Homo sapiens: one gene and its partners. Changing the gene in region 1 together with any one later gene gives a genetic interaction. Each region holds a gene or a part of one and is shown on either strand. Other genes may lie near its edges.

Region 1 (3,949 bases):
CTGGGAGTACAGGCATGCACTACCACGCGTGGCTAATTTTTTGTATTTTTAGTAGAGATGGGGTTTCACCGTGTTAGCCAGGATGGTCTCGATCTCCTGACCTCGTGATCCGCCTGTCTCGGCCTCCCAAAGTGCTGGGATTACAGGCGTGAGCCACCACGCCCAGCCAACACCCCCAACTCTTAACTGTGATGCTTCCAGTTCACTGAGTAAATAGAAGCAATCCAAAGACAGCTCCTAGGACCAACTCATTCAGCCATTCACCCACCCTCTTTATTTATCTAAGAGATGAGGTCTTGCTCTGTTGCCCAGGCTGGAGTGCAGTGGCATGATCACAGCTTGCTAAAGCCTCAATCCTCTGGCCTCAGCCTGCTCAGTAGCTGGGACAACAGGTGTGCACCACCATGCCCAGCTTCGGCATGCCTCCTTTACTATGGAAGTAAGTTCCTGCAAAAACAATTTGTTCATTCTGCCCTGGCTCCCATCCCCTTTTCTTTGAGCAACATCAAATTTTCCAGCTCCACTGGATCACTCTCACACACTTGTTATTACCTCTCTCCTCATTTAAAAAGGGGGAAAAAAAAACTCTTCATCCTCTTCCAGCTATGATCCTTTTCTCTGCAGGCTGTTTTAGTGTACAGCCATCTGCATTCCCACCCATCTCTCTGCACCCCTTGCCTCCAAACTTAGGTTACTGGTGGCTCCATACTGCAAATCCCAATGGCAGTCCTCCCATTCCAGAGGTCCTTCCTCCCCTGAGAGCACATGTGGCTCTCAGGATGCCATGTGCTCCCTGTCCTCTGCCTCACTGGTGGCTCCTGCTAGTCTCCTATGCTCCTGCCTCTCTGCCAACTTGCTCCAATGAAGAGAGCACGTGAGTTTGGGCCAGGCGCTGTGGCTCACGTTTATAATCCCAGCACTTTGGGAGGCCAAGGTGGGCAGATCACTTGAGGTTAGGAGTTGGAGACCAGCCTGGCCAACATGGTGAAACCCCATTTCTACTAAAAATACAAAAATTAGCTGGGCGTGGTGGCACATGCCTGTAATCCCAGCTAATAGAGAGGCTGAGGCAGGAGAATCGCTTGAACCTGGGAGTCGGAGGTTTCAGTGAGCTGAGATTGTGCCACCGCACTCCAGCCTGGGCAACAGAGCAAAACTTCATCTAAAAAAAAAAAAAAAAAAGGCTGAGTGCAGTGGTTCACGCCTGTAATCCCAGCACTTTGGGAGGCCGAGGTGGGCAGATCACGAGGTCAGGAGTTCGAGACCAGCCTGACCAACATGGTGAAACCCCATCTCTACTAAAAATACAAAAATTAGCCAGGCATGGTGGTGCACGCCTGTAATCCCAGCTACTCGGGAGGCTGAGGCAGGAGAATCACTTGAACCTGGGAGGCGGAGGTTGCAGTGAGCCGAGGCACTCCAGCCTGGGCAACAGAGCAAAAAGCCCATGAGTTTAATTGTTGGATCCTCTCCTTTCTGGCTATACTCACCACATGAAGATTTCACCCAGTCTTAGGGCTTCATGCCTACTCTACACTGAGGCCACCTGCTTCTCCAGCCTTGAGTCTGAACTGCAGACTCTGATCTATCTGCCTCAGCCACACCTCCACCTGATGTCTAACTTCCACCTAAGATTAAACATATCATGTCCAAAACCAAGCCCCTGACATTGCAACCTGCTCTTCCAGTCTTCCTCATCTCAGCTAACAGCAATTCCATCTTTCCGGATAATCAAATCAGAAACCTTGGATTCATCCTCAATGTCTTTTTCCCTCACACATTCCTTATGCGATCCTCCCCCTGCCCCTCTACCTCTGAAATATAAATTAGCCGCGGCACCACGCCCAGCTAATTTTTGTATTTTTTGTAGAGACAGGGACCCACCATGTTGCCCAGCCTGGTCTGGAACTCCTGGGCTCAAGAGATACTCCCGCCTCGGCCTCCCAAAGTGCTGGCGTTACAAGCATGAGCCACCGTGCCCAGCAATAACCATTACTGAATAAATCACTCAATCAGTTTGCTTGTAACTCTATCACTTTGGGACGTCACGCCCGTAATCTCATCACTTTGGGAGGCCCAGGTGGGAAGATCGCTTGAAGCCAGGAGTTCCAGACCAGCCTGGGAAACAGAGTGAGACCCTTCATCTCTACAAAATTACAAAAATTAGCCTTGAGTCTGTAGTCCCAGCTACTCGGCAAGCTGAAGTGGGAAGCTTGCGCCCAGGAGGTCGAGGCTGCAATGAGCTATGATCGCGCCACTGCACTCCAGCCTCGGCGACACAGCAAGACTCACTCTCAAAAAAAAAAAAAAAAGTCCAAACAAAATCTACGGATGAGCCCCAGAAGCTCATTTTGCCCAGGGACTACAGTCTCCCCATCCCATGAATGGGGTCTGGCTTGCACAAGGAATGCAGAGGCCTCAGCCTGTCCTGTGACAACGTTAAGTCCAAGAGCGCCAAAAGGGGATGGCAGAGGAGTCATCCCCCGAATCTGCTGGTACCCAAGAGGTGGGGGGTTGGCTGTTCCTCCAGACTCACTAAAGCTTCGGCATCGCCTCCCGACGGCCGCCGGGAGGAGCCAGGCGTCCCGGTAGTCGCGCTTGGAAGGATGGGGTCGGGGGGAGTCAGTCTCCCCGACCGGCTTTCCCCCAAGCTCGAGGTCCCAGGAGCCTCCTCCAGGACCCCGTAAACGCACGGAGTAGAGGAACTTCCAGTCCTGCCCACCCCCAACGCCCACTCGCACGAGCCGCACCAGCACTCACCTTCTCCAGCTGCGAAAGCTCCGTTCACCCGGGAGATAGTGACTTCCGACTCCTGCCGGAAGCGGAAACCCCTCTCCTACTTTCAGGTCCCGGCCACCCCCATCCCGGACAGCCCAGCAAATAGGCCCTGCCTCCTTCGCCGCTCCTCTGAGCGCACGCGTACTCAAATAGCAGCGCTCCGACGGAGACGCAGTGCGCCTGCGCAAGAGCCGGTGCGTATTTGCCTGTACCTACGCGCGATGCCAGTACTTCTGGTCAGTTTCCAGGAGCGGCAAGTGAGGAATATGAAATAACCTTATGGCTGAATCAGGGTGAAGGGGAAGCTTGTAAGCATGGAAGACGCTCTACTCAAACTAAAAAGTTCAAGTTCTGATCCAGCAGATGAAGAGGGAGGCCTGAGAGGCTGCTGTTCTAACTCGCTCCCAGGTGACTTCCATGCTGCTGATCCGCAGACCACATTTTGAGTGCCCAGATTGTAGTAGATGAGGTTGAGTGGACAGGCTGGGGCCAGATTCCATGGAGCCTCGTGGGCCGTGTTAAGGATTTTTATTTTTTATTTTTGTTTTATTTTATTTTATTTTTTTGAGACGGAGTCTCACTTTGTCGCCCAGGCTGGAGTGCAGTGGCTCGATTTCGGCCCACTGCAACCTCCGCCTCCCAGGTTCAAGTGATTCTCCTACCTCAGCCTCCCGAGTAGCTGGGATTACAGGCGCCGGTCACCGCGCCCGGCTAATTTTTGTAGTTTTTTTTTTTTTTTTTTTTTTGAGTAGGGATGGGGTCTCACCATCTTGGCCAGGCTGGTCTTGAACTCCTGACCTCGTGATCCACCCGCCTCGGCCTCCCAAAGTGCTGGGATTACAGGCGCGATCCACCCGCCTCGGTCTCCCAAAGTGCTGGGATTACAGGCGTGAGCCACCGCGCCCGGCCAAGGACTTTTATTGGTTTTTATTTTTGGTTTTGTTTTTTTCTGAGACAGGGTTTCGCTCCGTCGCCCAGGCTGGAGTGCAGTGACGCCATATGGGCTCACTGCAACCTTAGCCTCCCGGGTTCAAGCGATCCTCCTGCCTCAGCCTCTTAAGTAGCTGTGATTACAGGTGCGCACTACCATGCCTGGCTAATTTTTGTATTTTTAGTAGAGATGGGGTTTCACCATGTTGGTCAGGCTGGTCTCGAACTCCTGACCTCAAGT
Region 2 (3,175 bases), on another chromosome or scaffold:
CCTTTTATTATTTTATTTTTATTTATCTATTTTTTTGAGACAGAGTCTCAGTCTGTCACCCAGGCTGGAGTGCAGTGGCGTGATCTTGGCTCACTGCAACCTCCGCCTCCTGGGTTCAAGTGATTCTGCCTCAGCCTCCAGAGTAGCTGGGACTACAGGCACCCACCACCACGCCCAGCTAATTTTTTTTTTTTTTTTTTTCAGTAGAGACAGGGTTTCACCATCTTGGCCAGGCTGGTCTTGAACTCCTGACTCGTGATCCACCCACCTCGGCCTCCCAAAGTGCTCGGATTACAGGCGTGAGCCACCACGCCCGACCTCCCATGTTCCTTTTAAAAGGACTGGGCTTTCATGCTATTAATATATAAAGAAATCCACCTTCAGCAGTGAAATCTAACAATGCCAGGGAGCCAGTGCTTGTAAATGCCCGATAATCTTTTCTGATGAGCTTAATTTCCTTTTCGTAAAATTAAGGGTCTTCTCAAATCTAATTTTGAGAAAAAAATGGATAAAAATTACAGAACAAGGCTGGGTGCAGTGGCTCACACCTGTCATCCAAGCACTATGGGAGGCCAAGGCAGGCGGATCACTTGAGACCAGGAGTTTGAGACCAGCCTGGCCAACATGATAAAATGCCGTCTCTACTAAAAATACAAAAATTAGCCAGGTGTGGTGGTGGGCACCTGTAGTCCCAGCTACTTGGGAGGCTGAGGCATGAGAATCACCTGAACCTGGGAGGCAGAGGTTGCAGTGAGCCGAAATCACACCACTGCACTCCAGCCTTGGTGACAGACCGAGACTCTGTCTCAAAAAAAATAAATAAAAATAAAATAAAATAATAAAAGGAGGATAGTAGGGTGGGGACAGAGCGAGACTGTCTCAATCAATCAATCAATCAAGAACAGAACAGAAAGTCATACTTGCTTGCTTGTTTTGTTTTTGACGTCCTGATTCGTTTCGCTTTTGGCTTTCCCAGAGTTTCTACTGATTGTGCATCATCTTTCTATGGGTTAAACATTTTAAAAGGTTAAGTATTAAACACGAATCCAATTTTAAAACTTCTATCCTGAGACAAGGAATACTAGAGCCAAACACTGATGAATTCAAACTCGCCAAATGCAAAATTGACTCCTTTTCTCATACCTTTTAGTAGAAACCTTAGTTATGCAGGCCTGTTCTTTATTCCTCATTCCTACAATTCAACTAATCTCCAAGTTATCATCAGTTTTATTTTTGAATGTTTCCACTGTCTACTGCCCTTCTGTACCCACTCCCTTTGTCCAGATCCAGGCTCTCACTTTCTAAGAAGTAGACAACCAGAGACTATTGTTTCCTACCCACATTTCATCTTTCATAGAGACTACCTGTAATACACACATGGCTATTCACAATGAACACTCCTCATCTGCCTGCCATTGCCATGCTCTGAGCCTTTGCGTCTGCCATTTACTCTGTTGGGAGGAATGCCTGTCTCCTCTAACCTCGGTCTATAAAGTATTTGAAGTAATTGTTTTCATCTCTTCAATGAAACTGTGTATCTCAGTTGAACTGTAGGTGCCTGACAGACAAGGAATTTGCCTGAATTATTCTTGTGTAATTTGCCCTTGCAGAGTAGCAGACTCATGGCAGATAATTCAATAAATGCTTATGAATTAACATTTATAAACTTAAGGGACTCGCACTCAATCCCTCAACTATTTCTTTAAAAAACACCCAGGTAATTCTGATGGACACTAGAATTTAAAAACCCTTCCACAAACAGGTAATTTAAACTGTAACTGCTGGTAAAATATGATCAGTAGCATACCACAGATGTGTCTTAAAGGTAGGAGGCCTCCAAAGGGGTGGATACGACCATTTTTGGCTTTTGGTATGCATGACTGTTATCTTTAAGACATTTATTTAAATAATAAACAAAATTTAAAATCATTAAAATTTAAATAAAATAATTTTATTAAAACATTTGTAAAAAAAAAAAGTATGTTTTAACAAACATACAAATAAAATCATGCATTTCTTACCAGTTCATCTTCAAGCTTGTTCTTATTGGATGTGTTTTTTTGTCTGCTCCTTAAAGCAGGAGGTGAGATGACAAACTGAGAAGATAAATCCGAAACTAATTCTTTCAGCTGTGCAGGAACCTCTATTTTTTTAGCTAAAAAAAGTTGAAAAAACTGTATCTGTATCTTTATATATGTGTGTATATATATAAACACAATAAAAACCTGGAACAAATTATGTGTTTTAGAAAGATGCAAACGTCCCCAAACCTGGAAACCATTAGTATTGCAACCTAAGTATCCATGTTGGCAGAGAAACGACAGAAAAATCCCAGCATCATTTGGGTAAGCCAAATGTGTAGGACGATTGAATGCTTCAAACTAAAAAGTGCTACAATATAAAGACAGGCCATGAAAGCAGGTACAGAACTGTTTAGTCTATTTCTTTTAATCCGTACTGCTCCTCAAGCATTCTGGGGAGGGAAAGCATTAATCCTATATGTAACCTGAGCTAGTCTGTGCCATAACTACTGCTATTGCAGAGACGTTATTTACAAAGTAGGTTTTTTATTTTCAAAAAAGAGAAAATCTTTCTAGCCACCTCATTTTGAACTACTTGTTCCAGCCAAAGGAACAGAAAAGTTCATCTCCACAAAAGGAGAAAGTGCCAGGTGCAGTGGCTCACAATTGTAATTCCAGCACTTTGGGAGGCTGAGGTAGGAGGACGGCTTAAGGCCAGGAGTTCAAGACTAGCCTGATCAACAAAGTGAGAGCCCTGTCTCTACAAAAAATTTTTAAAAGATTAGCCAATGTGGTGGTGCACGCCTGTGGTGTCAGCTACGTGGGAGGCTGAGGCAGGAGGATCACCTGAGCCTGGGAAGCTGAGGCTACAGTGAGCCATGATTGTGCCACTGCACTCCAGCCTGGGTAACAGAGTGAAAAGCTAACAGGAAGATATTCCATAGAAAAATAAAAATGGTTTAAACAACAATTGGTTTAAAATAAGGAATTAAAAGCATTTACCACACAGACTTTTTTTTTTTTTTTTAACTATAGGGCCCCCATATTAAAAGCAATTATCAATATAATTACAGACGAGCACAGTTCAGTTTAACCAGTCTGCCGGAGTAAATCCCAGCTTCTGGACTTACTGTGAGACCAGAATCAAGTAACTT
Region 3 (3,500 bases), on another chromosome or scaffold:
CACTCCAGCCTGGGCGACAGAGCGAGACTCTGTCTCAAAAAAAAAAAAAAAAAAAAAAAGAAATAGAAATAAATTAAAAAGTTAATATTTTTTTCTCTGTATTCCACCATGGGGACCACTGGGTCAAAGGGCCATGTTAGTAATTTAGGGGAGGGGTACAAAGCCTGTTAAGTTTTATAATGGCAAGATTGCATAAAAAGAACTGACTCCAAGGTTCCAACTGGAATGTTGGTGTTGATGACTTCCGCAGTCTTGTAATCTAGGTGCTGACTCTTGTCACCTAATCTGTAATGTAAACCTCTTACCTGTGATTGTAGAAATACATAGCAATAAATACTTGGCTTTCATTTTTCAGCATAGAAATTTCAAGAAATGGTTTTTCTAATATATTACAAGGGTTCTTTTAGGTGTCAACCCTTTGGTCAGCACCCAATAAAATAAATTGTTTTATAACAATCTGGATAAGTAAACTGCTATTTCCTTTACCTATATGAAATAAAATCAGTAGAAAGATTAGTAAACTGTCACAGGAGTGGAATTTAAAGAAAAAAAAGAGATTAGGCTGTTACCCTTGTATATGCTGGGGGAATGGCAGGTTTACCCTTTTAATCTTGGAAATTTTATTAAGGAGCTATTTTTTCCTCAGAACGTACATGGTGACCAGCCCCATGAGTAAATTTTAAAATAATTTTTCTGTACCTATCATTATGTAGAGGTGATGTATATAATAATATAATTTTAAGAAGTGACAGAGGCTGCTTTTCAATTTTGTTAAATTCTTAGAAATACAACAGTTTGAGATAAGGTTACTTTTTCATTATAGTACTGGCCTTTGGATTCCTTTCCATGGGTGATTCAGATGATATTTTAGTACAGTACAGAATTCGACAGTAATTTTGTAGTTATCAGGTAGATAACTAATACCTTCCTGGGAACTTAAAAAAAAAAAAAAAAAAGCCTAGGGATGTGTATGTGTGTTTCTTGTCAGATGTGGAGAAGGATGAGGAGTGAAGCTGGAGGGGAGGGGACAACAAAATCCATTTTCAGATGTGCTTTCATATGCTAGGATTCAACCTACAGCAAGTTTTAATGGTGTTATAAACCCCTGAAAATGGGAGATAACTGTGGAATTGCTGACAGTTCCCTAACTATAGCAATGCAAGTGTGCTGCATTAATACAATATTAACCTCAAGGATAGAAGATTTCAAGCCATAGTATATTGATCAAAGGATTGAACACAAAGAATACATTTTTATTTTGATAATTTCTTGCCTGGAGAGGTCTTTGAAAAAGTGACAACCAGAAGCAGAACCACATGATAGCATTGGTATTAACTAAAAACAAAACTTTTTAGTATTGTGGAATTTCATAAGCCTTTGATGTATATCTTTATCCATCTTGGCTATTTTTTAAGCTCTTTAGGACACAAAGCATCATAGGCTCTGTGTGTGTGTGTGTGTGTGTGTGTGTGTGTGTGTGTGTTTTAAGTAGATATGATATTATCCCTCAGAGACCTTACTTTTAAAAATAGGTTAATGCATGAGATACCACAATCTAAATGTGATCAAATAAGGTTATCATTAATATGTTTTCTGAGACATTTAGGGTTGGGGCAGAGAACTGAAGAGGTGAGTTTAGAAAAAAAAAAAAAAAGAGTTGAGGTAAAAGTGGCAGCAGTGACCATGATAGCTAATCACTTAATATACCTTTTCACCATTGCCCTCTTACGATAGCCCTTACACACACAAACACCTGCACACTAAGTCTTCCCTTGTGTTATGGAAATAAGGTTTGAGAGAAGAAATTTTGATACAGAGTAAACTTGACGTAAACCCATCAAGTTCTATGTACTGAAACTGCGAAGTGTATCTTTTAAAACACAGTTAGGAAGGAGTTCTGTGGCAGGGAGAGGCCTACCTGGATTTAAAACGTTACCATCGATATGGATACACAGAAAACTGATACTGCTAGTTGTTTCAGGGGGAAGGAACTAGATAATGCCTGTCAGGAATAAGAAGGAAATTTACTTTTATTTGTAATAACTTTTTGGTGATTTTAAATTTTATATCATGTGTACAGTATTATCTATTACAAATTAAAAAACAGAAAAGTAAAACTTTAACATAGATAATTGTGCATTGTCTTCTAGATTACTTTCTCTTTTTTTCCTTCAGGCGTTTGCAATGGCTGCTACTGTGAACTTGGAACTTGATCCCATTTTTTTGAAAGCACTAGGTTTCTTGCATTCAAAGAGTAAAGATTCTGCTGAAAAGCTAAAAGCACTGCTTGATGAATCTTTGGCTCGGGGCATTGATTCCAGTTACCGTCCATCTCAAAAGGTACTTGAATGAATAAAAAGCTTGGAGAGAGTTTTGTAAGGCCTGTAGTACTACATTGATAACATATAGACCATCTCAAAACAATCTCTGCCGAAATAATCTTTCCTTGTAGCATGAAGAAATTATATTCTTTATTTTCTTTTTTCCCTTCAAGTTTTCAGAGAACTGTTACACCACATAGAAAAATCAGCTGGGGGTGCAGGATATTCTGTTCTACTACTTTATGTGTATATGAATTCACTTGTTTACGACTTACTTTAATTTCCGATTCTTTGTGATCAGAATTTTTTTTAAGCTGCTGAATGTAACCACAACTTACTTCTAATTATTGCCTAATATTTTAAGGATTAAAAAAAATCAAGTAAAAGGACAGATCTTTCAACAAAATAAATTGAATATGGGTAGGATAATTTAAGAGAAAAGGAGGTATGGATGAACTCTGAGAACTGTGTAGCTCCTGTCTTGATAATAACAAAGCAGCCAATGGCAGCTTTATGTGAAAAGAATATATGTTTTGATACCAAACACACCTGTTTTAAATCCCACTTAAATCTTATAATTGTGTGATGATAATAGACAACGTATCTTGATGTCCCAGGCACTTTTCTGAGTAGTTTATGTGAATAATTAATTTTAATTATGATAATGATCCTTTAAGATAGATAACTGTTTTCTTCATTTTACATAAGGAAACTGAGGTACATAGAAACTTCATTTCACTTAGTCTGTTTATTGGTAAAATGGGGATAATAAGAACTACTTTGCAGAGTTGTAAAAATTGAAGGAGATCCAGTAAATGAGTTACCTAGTGTAGTACCTGCCTGGTACATAATAGGCTGTCACTGAATGACAACTCTTATTATATTCCCTAATACCTACTAAGACATTCTATCAAATCCTTCTAAGCTCTGACCCTCAAACTCCAAATCACTCAGGTCTGTGGACTTAGATCCCAAACTGAGAAGGAGAAAATAGAACATGACTAGCTCAAGTCTAACCAGAATCTGAAGCTCAAGAGAGGATCTAGTCCCAGGCTCAGAGCCCAAGTAAACACTGGCATTTTGTCCCCAGCCTTCTTTCAATACTAGGTCTAGTACTCCGAAGCCTTTTTATTGTATTTTGAATAGCAGAACCATTGTGACTTCATTTCTTCTATCCAT
Region 4 (4,080 bases), on another chromosome or scaffold:
TTTAGTCTGTTTTTATTATATTGTAATTTTCTTGACTGATTATCACCACCGAATCTCCTGTATGTAGTACAATTCTAGCCATGTAGTAGGAACTCATTAAGACCTATGCTGAATGAATCCACAAATAATTTATTACTAAACATTTTAATTTCAAACGCTAAAAAAAAAAAAAAAAAAAAGCAGTTTTCTCTGCAATTCCTGTCACTGCTCCAAGTTTCTTACAAGAAGGAGGTTAAGGTTTGGGTAGAAGGGGGCCAAAGATGGAAACTGAGGAGCAAGTGTAAGATGCAGAAGAGCTGGAAGACAAAGGGTTGTAGTCAACGAGTGAGCTCTTGGAGTTTAAAGTTTCACAGACAGTACTTACTGTAACTTTAAAATTTCAGACACAGCACTTACTGTAATTTTCTTGTCTCTAAAGCAGGCTTTGAACCTGGATAGATTTGGATAGAACCCCGACTTTGTCATTTGCTAACTGCAAGGCTTTGAATAAACGATTTAATTTCTCTGCGTCTGTTTCCTCATCTGTGAAATGAGGATAACAATACTGTCCACCTTACAACAATGTTAATAATCGGAAAAAGGACATAGGTAACGTGCCTGGCCTGTAGCTCACCAAATATTAGGTGGTGTTGCGATTAAGATGCCTTAGAACAATTCAGTTCTCCGACTCTCTAGACCTGAGGAACCTTCCCAGGGAACCCCTAACTTTCCCAGACCACACTGTCAGATATTCTATAGGCCCCGCCCCTCCAGAGCCTCCGAGTCCTCCCTAGCCCACCCGAGCCCGGTCCCCAGCATTACCTGACCCATAGCGCACGTCGTGTGAGTGCAGTCGGACGTTGTGGCGCGTATTGAGTAGCTTCACCACGGAGCCGCAAGTAACGACACCCAGGCTGGACGCTCCCACAGCGCTCCACAAACCCCCCAACAACAGCAGAGGTACTACAGCCATCCTAACTGTATCGCGGAGCCCCAAATCTTCGAAGAAAACTCGGCCCCTCCCCGGAACCGGAAGCTAATGGCGAAACCACGGAGAGAAGGAAGTGAAGAAGCCCGAGTCTGATCTTTATGGTTTATTTGACTAGAGCGGCCTGAGAAACCGGCTGAGCCTGGTTACTTACGATACTCTCGCTCTGTTCCAGGGGCTCAGTGACAGCTGCCTTCCTGAGCCGCTTCGGTTACCTTTCGCACCCACGAGACGAAAGCTTCCGAGAGCGGGAGAGAGAACAAGAAATGGCCCGCCCACTCCCGGTGACAGGGAGCCGGAAATGACGTAGCACGTTGACGCAGCAGCGGCGGCGGTGGCGGCGGAGGGGCCGTGCGGTGGGTCCGTACTATCTTTTCCCAGTCTCGGTTCGACGACTCCATTTTCCTCGGTGGGGGCTTAGCGCACTGGAGGAGCGGCGGGCTTCAGACAGGTAAAGTTCCGACTGGAGAGCGTGTTTCTCGCAGGAGTCAGGTGGGGAACCGGGCTCCTAGGGCCTGGTCACGTAAGGGAAGAGGCAGTGGGGAGCCGTATGCGGGAAGAAGGGGGAGCCTGGCCTTCCCTGCTCTATGGGGGGAAGGGGGAGGAAAGCGCTGTAGTTGCTCAGAGTCCGAAAGCTTTTCCCAGCCCAGTGACACCCGGAACCCGTGAATCGGGTGGCACGTTGAATCAACAGGCTTCCTGGCATCCCGTCCTTCTCTCCGCAGGTTTTTAAAACTGGGCCACGCAAAAGGATTGGGGATGGAAGGGACCTGGGGCTTCTGAGCCAGGATCAGGTGATCGAGTTGTTTGTTCTGGGGATATGAATCCTGTGGAGCTTTCAGCAGCTCGGCCATCAGGCTAGAGGGCGATGCCAAATTCCAGCTCTTTACATATTGCTGAATAATACAAATAGAACTTTTTGTAGATGGTTGCATCCTTCATCCCTTTCTAAAGATCGAAGGTCTTGTAGAAGTCCTAAAGCCCGTCCATTCTCTATAGATTCATTTCCTCAAACGTTTGCCAGAGGCCTATCATGAACATCAAAATTAGTTATTAAGTCAAAACTCCATCTTCTAGTTTCTACCTTTCTCCTCAGGCACTCCTTTGAACCAGCTGGAGAAGTTAATTTTCCTGGGTTGTTGCAAGAACTGATACTTATTTCAGAGGGCTAAGATCTCTGAAAATACTTCCGTGGAAATTCACTGTAATATCAAAAGTAACAAGGGTGTATGAAGCTACATCATTAATGAGCATTAGGGAGTGTAAACAATATTGAATTTGATTAATTTCTTCGGAAAAATGTCTGGTTCCACTGTTTATCTGGAAGTTACCAGTTTGTAAGTCTTCAGTGTTTTGATTACAGAAACATAACTGCTCTTCCATCAGCTGTGAATTTAGAGCCCTTTTTTACGAGTAATGTCCCTTTCACCAGTACAAGTACATTTTTATTCACTTGGCTTGTGTGGCTGCTAGATTGGATTAGCATAGCCTTGCAACTCTAGGAGGTTTTAACTTCATCAGGAGATTAATTACATCAGAAAGTGGTACCGTCTGGAGAGGCTTAGTCAAATTTTACAGTTCTTCCTCTGAAAGCCTACCTAGTGTGGTGGAAACATGATCTTTGTAGGCAAATACGTTTGCCCTGATTCTATATTCTTGACCTTAATAAATGGCACTACCATCAGTCCTGCCTGTAATCCTTGTCTTCCTTCCTGTCCACTATTTCCCAATAAAATCAGTCACCAAATCCTGTCTCTCCCTGAAACTGTTCCCATCAGCATACAAATTATGTTCTGGTATCCTTCACATCCCTCTCCAATTACCATGCCAATTTTTTAAATTTCCATTCATAGATTTCTACCTGTACCAACTCAGCTTTCTCAACTTTCATTCACTCTTCATTTTATACCAATCTGGCTTCTCTTCTGCCCACTCCATTTTTTTTTTTTTTTTTGTGGAGACAGGGTCTTGCTCTGTTGCCCAGGTTGGAGTGCAGTGGCCCCATCATAGCTCACTGCCACCTGGAACTCCTGAGCTCAAGCAGTCCTCCTGAGGCAGCTTCTAGTAATCAAGTGCCACCACATCTACTTTGCCCACTCCATTGAAGTTGCTCTTATCAAGGTCACCAGTGACTTCTATGTTGCCAAATCCAATGGATACTTTGTTCTCATATTCCTCTGTCTCTGCAATATTCAACATAGTTACTCCTGCCTCCAAACTTTCATCTTGGCTTTATTGACATTTCACTCTTGGATTTTCTCCATTTCTCCGGCTGTTCCTTCTGAGTCTCATTTGCTAGCAACTTTTGCTCTCTATCTAATGTCTAAATGCTGGGGCTGGTCGCAGTGGCTCATGCCTATAATCCCAGCACTTTGGGAGGTCGAGGTGGGCAGATCACTTGAGGTCAGGAGTTCACAACCAGCCTGGCCAGCATGGTGAAACCCCATCTCTACTAAAAATACAAAAACTAGCCGGGCGTGGCGACACGCCTGTAATCCCAGCTACTTGGGAGGCTGAGGCAGGAGAATCACTTGAACCAGGGAGGCAGAGGTGCAGTGAGCAGAGATCATGCCACTGCACTCCAGCATGGGCAACAGAACAAAACTCCGTCTCAAAATATATGTATATCTACATATGTTGGAATTCTCACAGGAATCCCGAGCCTTCTACATGCTTCCCTTTAGGTAACCCAGCCCCATGGCTTTAATTACCACCTGAAAGTTGGCAACTCCAAAGTTTAAATCTCTAGTCCAGCCCTCTCCTCTATGTTGCAGAATCACGCGTCAAAAATGCCTGTTTAATTATCTCCATTTGGATATTTCTTAGGCACCCAAAGCTAACATAACCAAAAGAAAGTTTTGGTTTTCTCATCATTGCAAACCTTATCCTCCCGTTTCACTGAGTGGTGCTCCTATCCGCAGGGTTACCAAAGATAGACCTCTGAGAATCATCTTTGTTCTTCTCCTTTACTACTCCTCTTCCCCAGTCTTTCAGTAAGTCTTGTCACTTCCACTTGCAGAATGTTTTTGTAATCTGTCTTCTATTCTCCATCTTCACTTTTACCACCTTATTCCAAGCCACCACCATCTTTTGCCTGGGCTACCACAACAGTA
Region 5 (3,938 bases), on another chromosome or scaffold:
TCTTATACTGGCGCGTGCGTGCCGTGCACACGTACACACACGCGCGCACACACACACACCCCTTTCTCCCTTACCCTGCTTCACCTTTTTACAGAATTTAATACTGTCTGAAATGTACTTGTTGGTGGTGTCCTGCCACTAAATCCCGGAGGGAACGGATTTTTGTCTGTTTTGCTCCCCATGATCTAAAACAGTACTTGGCACAAGAGGTTCAACAACTCGTTGAATTAATGAATAGTGGACATGAACTTGACAAAACAGGTTCCCTGCCTCAAGAGGCATGGCCGCAGTGAGGAGACGTTAAAAGAATTAAAACTGTATATGTTTAGTGGGAACACAGGAGCCTTTAAATTAGCTCAGAGGATTTACATAGATACCTGCGATAAAATGGTTCGTATAAGGTTCATATAATAGTTACGTAAGACTCTTGAAAACTGTAATGTATTATGCAATTTTAAGATTGTATCATAGCTGGCGAAAATGAGGTCACATCTTGCCATTCTTTTTTCGCCTCGAAAAATTTTATGAGGAAAATTTCCTTTCACTTCCTCATTTATTTCCTTTTCCTGTAACCTAAATGGTCAAGCGGCTGTGAATGTTATCTTCTATGGGCAGCAATAAATACGGTTTGGTGTCGGAGTCTGCGTAGTGAATGGCTCACTGGATCTGGCGCATGCGCATCTTTTGTGGTGCCGCAAGATGGCTGCCAGCCATTTTGTCGCGCGTTGCTCCTCCGAGGAGTTGGGGGCGATGGCTGCAGCCCCCTGAAGACTAACAGTGGTCTCAGTGGTGGGAATTTTCTGTCTCTGTTGTGTGAGCTGAACACACCCAAGAGAGCGGCCAAAAGCAGCAAAGGGCGGGGCAGGGGAACCCCCCCACCCGGCTAACCTTAGTTATACCAGCTCCCTCACCCATCCCTCCCAGTTTTTCCTTCCATCCCGTTACACGCTTATCTTCTGCGCAGGCGCAAAAATAATCGTAGCGCCTCCTGGGCCCTGGGGGCTTCAGAGCTCCTGCGCGCGCTTGTGGTTCTCCACTCCTGATTGGTCAGGTTGCCCCGCCATCACGCCTCCCTCTGCTTTCAAGGTTGAGAAGGAAGCAGGGGTAGGGGGGTGGGGCCAAGTGGCGCGTGCGCGATACTGTTGCTGCCCCTTTGCTGCTATTGCGTTGCAAAAAAAATCCTGACTAGGTAGCCTTGGACCTTTTCTGTGCTAGCGAGTCTAAAGGAAAGAAAGATTTCTGCAACTGAAGGGGCAGTCGGGTAGTATTACATTTAAGATATTAACGCCCGACCTGGCTCACAGGAGTGTGGGAACAGGGGCGGGGAAGGGCCTTAGCACTGAGAGCCGAAAAGTATAAAACGATTAGTTTCGGCGTCAGGCGTTTTGAAAGGCTTTGCAGGTCCTGTTTTCTGCGTAATTTTTCCGTGATTACTGACTGGTTTAAACACGACCCCTTGAACAATATTGATAAAACCTCCGAGACCCGCAGCCCCTCCTTGCAGCGTGTAGGAGCTGCCAGCGTGCCCAGCAGCTGGTGTTCCCGTCCGTACCTCCAGAAGAGCCCAGCGCGTGCACCATCCCCACCCCCTAGCTTCCCTCCCCACCTACGGCTTTCACGCACTCGCAGTGATTGTTTTGCCCGCTCCCGCCGCCGCCGCCGCCGCCGCCGCCAGAGGAGCAGCAGCGCTTGTGCAAACCGGGAAGATGGCGGCCGGCGGCGGCGGAGGCAGCAGTAAGGCCTCCTCCTCGTCGGCCTCTTCGGCAGGGGCTCTGGAGTCCTCGTTGGATCGAAAATTCCAGTCGGTAACCAACACCATGGAGTCCATTCAAGGCTTGTCGTCTTGGTGTATAGAGAACAAAAAACACCACAGTACTATCGTCTATCATTGGATGAAGTGGCTCCGGAGATGTGAGTGTTGGGGGTGACTAGGGAAGGGAAGACTGGGGAAATGGAAGGAAGTGTGGCCTGAAACGCTTGGGGTTTTCCCACGGAGCCGCAGCATTTGGTTGGGGTTGTTCACATTAAAGGTTTGACCCCAGTGGTCCCAAACCCAGACTCCATTCCTAGCCAGGATTGTCCTGAATTGCAGGAGACTCATTTCTTGGGTTTTTTAGCCATTGAATTGTTGTGACCTTGGGCCGTTGGGCCCAGATCCATGGAGATTTACGTATATTGTTTTTAATATTTCAGAGCCTTGTAAGGTGTATTGATTTTTCCGAACCTTCGCGGAAATTGTAGCGTCTGTTTATTTCTTACAGGCCTTGACGTGTTAATGATTTCTGGCTTTCCTGATGGTAGGCGAGCTGTGGTTTTAAGCAGTAGTAAATCCAGTGATGTTTAATGAGGAGTGCCTTGTCTGGATGAATGTATCTAAAACTTGTGATGTGTAGTAAGGAGAGCCTTACCTGGATGAATGTTAAGAAGCAGCATGAGCTCTACATAGATCTGAGGCACCACCGGGTTTTCCCTGTACCTGTGTTTGCTGCAATAAAATACAGGTTTCTTGGATACTGACCAGAAACAACTGCGATACAGTAGTCAGTATCATCGTTAATACCTTCAAATATAAAGCGTGTCCAGTTCCTCTTTTTTTTTGAGACGGAGTTTTGCTCTTGTCGCCCAGGCTGGAGTGCAGTGGCGCGATCTCGGCTCACTGCAACCTCCACCTCCCGGGTTCAAGCGATTCTCCTGTCTCAGCCTCGCGAGTAGTCGGGATTACAGGCGCCCGCCACCATGTCCGGCTAATTATTTGTATTTTTAGTAGAGACGGGGTTTCATCATTGTGGCCTGGCTGGTCTCGAACTCCCGACCTCAGGTGATCCACCTGCCTCGGCCTCCCAAAGTGCAGGGATTACAGACGTGAGCCCCCCGTGCCCGGCCCCGTTACTTTTTAATTACCTGAAATACCTTTTTACACAATTGAGTTGATCTCATGGGTAATGTGCACAGGAAATGTGCTTTTTGAATATGTAGTACCTTTTTCTCCAGTTATGTTTTTTTTGTCTTTATCCTGGAGATTTTTCCATTTTGCTGCTTTACTGCAGAAACGAGCTCTGTTAAAGCATGGATTGTTTGCAGAACGTTTCAAATCTTATAGGAGGAAGTGTGGAGAAGTTACTGTTTCCTGCTGAGAAGAGAGGGTTAACTCATACTCCATATACATCTATTAGAATTTTTCTTTGCTTCCTGCCTGCGGCATTTCACCAGTGAGACCCATCATCCAGTTATTCTGCCTTATTCCACTTCTGCCATTGCTCCTGTAGTGTTTTGATTTGTTTACCTTTTAGAGAACAGATAGATAAAACTTGCAAAATTATAGGCCCCATGCTTCGAACTATTTGTGTTTAAAGTTTTGGGAGGGATGTTTTGTGGTTCTTTGAATAATAATGCAGAGAAATTAGTAGATACCGGACAGAATTACCTGTGTTTACCAATAACCGATCAAAGAGTTATTTTCTTGCCCAGAGGTAAAATTATAACGTGCAAAAACATCAAATATGATAACAGTCATCATTGAAGACTCACATGTTAAGTATCTGCTATGTGCCCAGTCATCTCATTGTACCTTAAAATCGTCTGAGAAGTAGATTTTTTAATCACTGATTTACAAACGAGGAAACTAAGACTCGGAAATTAAGTTGCTTAAGGTTACTCAGTAAAATGGTGGGGTTAGGGTTTGACTTCATCATTAACTTTGTAAAATAATGTTTAACGTTCTTGGTATACCAGTGATATATTGCAAACAGTTCTAATGTGAGTGAGAGAACCTCTTCTCCACCCTATTTTAAAACATTTTTACTGACCTATGCAAGCATTTTACATTTCCTCACCTTGGGCTCTGGGGCTTTAACTGTATGGTTACATCATTTGCAAGAATAAGTTGGTCCCTGTCCCGTCTCTGCTGTGTGGGATCACAAGCGACAATTACAGTTTTT
Region 6 (3,500 bases), on another chromosome or scaffold:
TGTCATATTGTTGGCTTCTAGTATAATAAAGTGATACATTCAAGCATGCCAAAGAAGAAAAGTTGATTTACAAAGAACCACGTGGAGAAATGGTTCTTTCTGATAGTTCACATCTCATGAAGGTATGTAAGATTGAAACCGTTTCTGCGTGTCATTAAGTTCTCATTTGCCCTTTAGTGTAAAGAGTGAGGTTGCAGAGCAGTCAGATGTGTGCAAGGTTGTTAACATCTGTTTTGAGAGATGGGGCAAAAAAGGGCCAGTTCCCATCTTTAGATCTTATGCCGTTGAACAGCACATGGGGGAAGAGAGAAGAATGATCTTTACAACATAGCCTTAGTCGAGAACATATCTGTTTTCTAACTCCCTCTCTCTGGGTTGTTCTGTAGCACAATAAGGACTCTAAATGGTGTCAGGAACATTTCCTGAATTACAAGGGTCTTGTCAGAGCTGCGACTGTAAGAGAACAATTGAAAAAGCTTCTTGTCAAGTTTCAAGTGCCCAGGAAGTCTAGTGAAGGTGAGAAGAAACCGTCCCAGCTGGTGACCTCCCTTGCTTCATTCTGTTGAGTTGTCTTCCTAAAGTTCTCATGCTGGGCTGGTGCGAGGCAGTGTGGCGTGCTCTGTACCAACACTGGGTTTTATATTTTGAGTTGCCTGCATCTGTGAAAAGCTGAAGGTCAAGTTGCGTATTTTTTCCAAGGAGGTCTATTTTTCTTTCTGATGGGCATTCTTACTAAAGGAATTTCATAGCCCATGACAATACTTAAGAATCACTAACAGTCACATCAGTGCACATCATGTCATTGATTTTCCCATGTAGGCTTTGCAAGAAAAATTACTTTTTGATCAGTGATATTAGTAGCTATTACATAAAAATTAAATTTTATATTCAAAGACAAGTATTATTAAAGCAAGTGCTGGATATTTAGCCTAGGCAGCCACTAAAGGTAAGACAGAAAAGTACTATGTAAGACGTAGTCTCTGGCCTCTAGCAGTGACAGTGACTACTATTAATCAGGGACACAGTAGGTTACGCTGTGGCAGGGGTTCTCCAAATATTCTCTTGCTCAATCTCGCACTCTGTGAGGTGTCGGTAATGTTATCCTCATTTTACAATTAGTCGTAAGATCCTAGGGAGAAGGTAGATTAAATTCAGGACCACGCAACTGGTAAGGAGGAGAGCCAGATCTGTATGTGGCTCAGAAGTCTACGCTTTTAAGGAAGTGACACACCCGCCTCAGCAGTCAGCCTGAAAGCCTAGTGTGCCAGGTACTCAGCCACATCCTCAGCACCATTAGTACTTGGTAACATTTCCTGAGTGCTTATAAGTGGCTAGACAGTGCACTGAGTGTTCCATGTGTTTATTAATTTAATGCTCACAACAACGCTGTGAAACGTGTGCTCTTTTCCCCATCTTATAGGTGAGAAAAGCGTGGCTAAGAGGTAAAATGTAACTTGCTGAAGTTACACAGTGAGGGTATGATGGAGTCAGAACCTGAGCCCAGGCGGTTCCATTTAAGTCTTCTTTTGTCTTTATACTAAGAGCAAGTGATTAAACAATGACGGAGTCTTGGCTTTTACTCTAAGGGAACAGTGTAATGAAGGGAGAGATTCATATGGATAGACAAAGTACTAAGATTATCAGTCCTCTTCGAAGTTAAAGTAGTAGATACTTTAGTAATCATAGAAGACGTGCTGGCAGATGTGGAAGGAATGCCGGGAAGAAGGAATCCAGAGAGGGCTAGCTTGGGAAGTCTTTCAGCTTCCTTGAGGTGTGGTGGGAGTCCGGTCAAGCTTTGGGGTCTGGTTGAATTAGAAAATGGTGGCAAAGAGCACTCTAGGGAAGGAGGACTGGAGACAAGTGCTTGGAGTGAGGAGTATATGAGACGCTCAGAGAATATTTGATGGGTGAATACACTCACGAGAGAGGGAAGAGTTGAAACCTGGGCCATTGAGCCATGTTGGAGTCATTGATAGAAACAGGATGCTTACAAGGAGCACCTAGTTGGAGAGCAGCTCGTCAAACGCCTGTCACCCAGCAGGTAGATGACAGCCTTACTTCAGCAATTGGTGTTCTTCACCTGTGTTTCATTATCAGACCCCTGCCCAGGAGAAAAGTTAAATTTAAATTCTACCCAGCCTGAGAAATTAAATACTAAGGAATAAGATTTTGTAGGGTAGGATTGAGCTTTGGAGGGCTACCGGCCATTGTAGTGTCTAAGATGCTCCCCTCCCCCTGCCTCCAAGAACCAGTTTCCACCCCTTTGGAAGTGATATCACCCCTGTTTAGAGTGCATATTTTACATGGAAATTTCTTATGGACAATAGGAGAGAAGAGACTGGATATCGGATTAGATCATATTTAGACATGTAGATTTGAGATTTTATCAGCTCAGTGCTTAGGAAAAATACAGAAAATCATGGAGACTAAATAAATTACATGCAAATTTAAAACATCTAAGGGTTAAAAAATAGAAAGCAATTAGTGAAAGATACTTTCAGCAGTCATGAGATAAATGATAAAGATTAAAAACTTTATTATAGAATGATTTTATTTAATATATTTAGGAAAAAACAGTTTTCAGGTTGATAAATGGGCTAAGGATTAGAACAAAAAATTCACAAAAGAAGAAATATGCCGATAGTAATCAAATAAATGTAATATAAAAGAAGGTAACAGAAGGTAACACTTTTTGCCAAAACATTGCTAGTAAGAATGCAGTGAAACTGCCATTTTTATATATTGTTGATGGCTTTGGAAATAGTACCACCTTTATGGAACTTACTTACCAACATGCTTTATTCCATTGGATCTAAGATACCATCATGTGTAAGAAACATCGTTATTTTATGTGTCACCAAAGAAAAAAAATGCTGCCAGTTATCATTGTAAAATGCTGTCCTAATTTCAGTGAATTAAAGTTAGAAAAAGAGCGAGTCTTAAAATTGATGAGATGTGATATGTCATTAACCATAAAAATAACATTAGCCTTTTGCACAACAATTTGGAATGTATCCTATGGACATCATCTAATAGTGGGGAAGCTTTATTCATGGAAGATGTTAGCTGTAGCAATAGAAACACCAGTTAAAATGGAACATTTGAAAAATTTGAAGAATTACTTCAATTTTCAAACACTAGCTCATAACCACAGAAGTAACGTTGTATACTATCTCCAGTTTGTGTTTTATAGAAAGAACATTGTTGCCATATGACACTCTTTTACAAAGGAGTTCTGAGGTCACTGACCAGCCTGCAGAGCAGCACTCTTAGGTTCTGGTGCCCAGCCATGGTCCAGTCATCTGTGGCTTAGGGGAGGTTGGAGGGGTCCCAGGTTCAAGGAGCAGACCAGCATTGTTGTCAGCAGCAGTTGTGGGGAGTGGGACCTCCTTAGATGGTGCTGGGGCAGGCATCCAGCATTGGGAAGGGTAGGGCTGGAGCCATTTCAGGAGAGGGTTTCCAGGTGTCTTGAAGCAGCCTGGGGTGGTGCTGGGAGTGGA
Region 7 (2,899 bases), on another chromosome or scaffold:
ACTTTTGAATATACTTCAGTGAAATCATTGTTGAAATAGGCTGACAATGGAAATCTGCCCAGATTGAAAATGCCAGTCCTAATTCAAAAAACAATTCCTAGCTAATCGCTTGTTGCATTTTTAAATTATTTCTAGACTTTGAGCTTTAGAATTAAATGGCTAACTGGGAAATGTTACCATTTTGTATATATGTTGTGGGTATAAATGGGCACAGATCTACACCCTGCTGTAAGTGGAATTTTTTTCTAACACGTTTTTGATTTATGGTATCTATAAGGATTATTTTTTAAGGATCATCAGGATGTAAAACAGAGTGTGTGTGAAAGTAACCATTGGTTTAGAATGTTGATCTAACATGGAAATAAAATTTGTAACACCACACTATAAGGTTAAAAAGAAAACTGTATAATAAAGGAAATACAAAGGCTTTGGCATGGTTTTTTACAATCAACAATGGTTAATTTTGATATGTAGTTGTGAACAACTTCAAAACACTTAAGTTTAAAACTCTTGCAAGCACTTTTAATTGATTAGGAATGAACTCTAGATGCACAAAATGATTGGACCGTGAACAGTAATACAACTATATCTAAGAACAATTAACTTTTGCTGGCCAAAAAAGAAACGTATGATTGCATGAAAATGTGTATAAAACATCTATATTCTTGTCAAATATAAATGAAATTAACTTTATTATAGAAATCATTCTGAGGATTTCTAGGGAAGACAAATACTTACATTTTGACATAAAACAAATTGGATTATATCGAAGACACACTCTACCTTTTAGCTATCAACTTTTTTTCTTCCTTGAATTTATATCTTACCCTTTTTTGCACATAAACTTCATCTGTTAACAACCTTTGGAAAACCAACAGATATTTCTGACATAAATCTAGTGCATGTTGTTCCAGGTTTAATTATATGCAAAGGAATGATACAAACTTGGAACATCAGTCCATAAACTATGAACAGATGGGTAGAAGTATTCGATATATCTTGATAAAACTCTTAAATTCGTGGCAAAGCTTGTTGATCATGGTTTTCTTTTTAAAAAAAAAAAAAACAACTTCATGACCAACACAGATCAAACATCCATCCAGTCTACATTGTTCTTTTTTTCATTATAACATACAAATGCCCATTTACAAATAATACACCAAAATGAATAAAAGTTTGGATACCAAAATGAAGATTTGTTCCAACTGATATCGTGCCTTCTGTATACAAAGGTCCTTGTTTCAAGTCCATTCCTTCCCCAGTGGTACAATACAGGACACAATTGTAGAACTGAAGCGGCTCTAACAGCCATTTTTCTTTCTTTCCTGAAAGCTCAACTGTTGTGTCCCCATAGTCACTGACTGAATTAACACAATATTTCCTTTCCTTTTTTTTTTTTTTTTTTTTTTTACTGTAATCTTGGCCAGTATTGAGACATATCAGGTTCACTTCCGGGAACTTGAACTGGAACTGACACACCAGGGGAAATGAGTCCTAGAAGTGGATGAAAGAAATAGCCATGTAGATATTCCCTTTGAGAAACAGACATGGAATACAAATTTATAGGTTTACAAAAAAAAAAAAAAAAAAAAAAACTAATACTTTCTAACATTTTTTACTGTATTAAAATCACTTCAATTGTTACAAATAAAAGTAGCACCTTCAGAAACTAGACAATATATGTATATATACCTATTGGATCCCAAGTACCCCCCACCCCAATCCAAAGGAAAAGAAAAAAAAAATCCTCTGTTTGTTTGCATGTTTGGAACTTTTACAATAAAGCTGTCTCTGGAAAACCAATGTGTCACTTTTTATTTCCAGCAAAAGGTCTAGAGGAGCTATGAGGGCAAGAAGCATTTCAACAAGCACGCACCTACAGCTCAGTGGGCCCCCTACTGAGCTTCGTCTAATAATCTGTCCTCAGAAAACTTGCAGTCTCAGGCCTTGTCTTCATACACAACTTTTGTGACCAAATTCAGGAAAAACAATTTTAGTTTTTGTCTATATGGTGTAAAGTTACTAATTAGCTTAACTGAATTTCCCTTTTCAATCCCCATCCCCCAGGGACAAGGAAAGCAAGGAGTTAAACACGCCCTCCCATAAGACCAGGAGATTCTGTTTGGGTAAACTTCTAGTGAAGAGAGATCGCCTCTGTGCAGCCTGCAGAAAGCAGTGGCTCACCTGTTGAAGTGGTGCCCGAGGTGCCCATTGGCTGACTGTTCATGTGTGTCTGCATATGTGGGGGGGTGTAGGTATCATAACTCCGCCCATTCACCGAAGGGCTGGTGGGCAGCATGCAGGAGTATGAGGAGGTCTGGCTGGGGACTGGGGGCTGTGAGGAGAGAGGCAAACCTGTGGTTACTGAGGAACACATCACACAGCCACAGCCCCAGGCTCCCTCCTCCCGAGGAACTCTGCCAACAAGTCTGATCATTAAAGATGCCTTCACGTGAAGTACTGGAATTCCATATGATAAATCTAAGATTGGGCCTCGAGCTAGTCCTTCCACTGGCCACAGCTAGAAGAAAGCTGCCTATGTATCAAGCCTCTAAAGCACTTTAGGTTCTGACAACTGTCCAGCTAGATGGTTGCCACTATCCATAAATTAATAGGATTTTTGTCTCTAACCTCTGCTAGCATCTTTGAAGAACCTATAGCATGAGGACCTTCATCAAAACACATCCCCTCTCCCTGCAAATCTGGATTTATTTGGGAACCCTATGACCCCCAGAGCCCATATCTCAAGCTTTGGGACAGAGAGCAGTGGGAGGAGCTCTCAGTAAAGTATGGTTCAGGGACCTTGGGAACCTTTCACTGATGGGATTAAAGATTCTTTGAAGAAGCAGATCTGTAATGACCCCAAGTTAAAGTGATCAGAAGTGTTAGTAAATATAAC

Evidence for each region.
Region 2: changes in ELOF1 (region 1) and AHCTF1 together harm fitness more than expected from each alone (negative genetic interaction), as found in Homo sapiens cells (one large-scale study listed by BioGRID).
Region 3: changes in ELOF1 (region 1) and INTS12 together harm fitness more than expected from each alone (negative genetic interaction), as found in Homo sapiens cells (one large-scale study listed by BioGRID).
Region 4: changes in ELOF1 (region 1) and SUPT6H together harm fitness more than expected from each alone (negative genetic interaction), as found in Homo sapiens cells (one large-scale study listed by BioGRID).
Region 5: changes in ELOF1 (region 1) and RPRD2 together harm fitness more than expected from each alone (negative genetic interaction), as found in Homo sapiens cells (one large-scale study listed by BioGRID).
Region 6: changes in ELOF1 (region 1) and DHX35 together harm fitness more than expected from each alone (negative genetic interaction), as found in Homo sapiens cells (one large-scale study listed by BioGRID).
Region 7: changes in ELOF1 (region 1) and PAX6 together harm fitness more than expected from each alone (negative genetic interaction), as found in Homo sapiens cells (one large-scale study listed by BioGRID).

Annotation. Positions count from the first base shown.
Region 1 is NC_000019.10:11,556,431-11,560,379, forward strand, and holds the start of ELOF1 (transcription elongation factor 1 homolog), read right to left. Parts: upstream 2,801-3,949; 5' UTR 2,761-2,800; intron 1-2,760. UniProt on the Homo sapiens protein: Factor involved in transcription-coupled nucleotide excision repair (TC-NER), a mechanism that rapidly removes RNA polymerase II-blocking lesions from the transcribed strand of active genes.
Region 2 is NC_000001.11:246,841,774-246,844,948, forward strand, and holds part of AHCTF1 (protein ELYS), read right to left. Parts: intron 2,156-3,175; coding exon 2,022-2,155; intron 1,004-2,021; coding exon 921-1,003; intron 1-920. UniProt on the Homo sapiens protein: Required for the assembly of a functional nuclear pore complex (NPC) on the surface of chromosomes as nuclei form at the end of mitosis. May initiate NPC assembly by binding to chromatin and recruiting the Nup107-160 subcomplex of the NPC.
Region 3 is NC_000004.12:105,698,690-105,702,189, reverse strand, and holds part of INTS12 (integrator complex subunit 12), read left to right. Parts: intron 1-1,918; exon of another isoform or gene 1,919-2,175; 5' UTR 2,176-2,184; coding exon 2,185-2,340; intron 2,341-3,500. UniProt on the Homo sapiens protein: Component of the integrator complex, a multiprotein complex that terminates RNA polymerase II (Pol II) transcription in the promoter-proximal region of genes.
Region 4 is NC_000017.11:28,660,925-28,665,004, forward strand, and holds the start of SUPT6H (transcription elongation factor SPT6), read left to right. Parts: upstream 1-1,280; 5' UTR 1,281-1,418; intron 1,419-1,692; exon of another isoform or gene 1,693-1,761; intron 1,762-4,080. Other genes in the region: SDF2 (stromal cell-derived factor 2), read right to left, coding at 802-952.
Region 5 is NC_000001.11:150,363,009-150,366,946, forward strand, and holds the start of RPRD2 (regulation of nuclear pre-mRNA domain-containing protein 2), read left to right. Parts: upstream 1-1,138; 5' UTR 1,139-1,706; coding exon 1,707-1,911; intron 1,912-3,938.
Region 6 is NC_000020.11:39,024,844-39,028,343, forward strand, and holds part of DHX35 (probable ATP-dependent RNA helicase DHX35), read left to right. Parts: intron 1-386; coding exon 387-516; intron 517-3,500. UniProt on the Homo sapiens protein: May be involved in pre-mRNA splicing.
Region 7 is NC_000011.10:31,788,526-31,791,424, forward strand, and holds the end of PAX6 (paired box protein Pax-6), read right to left. Parts: intron 2,336-2,899; coding exon 2,185-2,335; intron 1,800-2,184; exon of another isoform or gene 1,495-1,799; coding exon 1,409-1,494; coding exon of another isoform or gene 1,105-1,408; 3' UTR 501-1,104; downstream 1-500. UniProt on the Homo sapiens protein: Transcription factor with important functions in the development of the eye, nose, central nervous system and pancreas. Required for the differentiation of pancreatic islet alpha cells.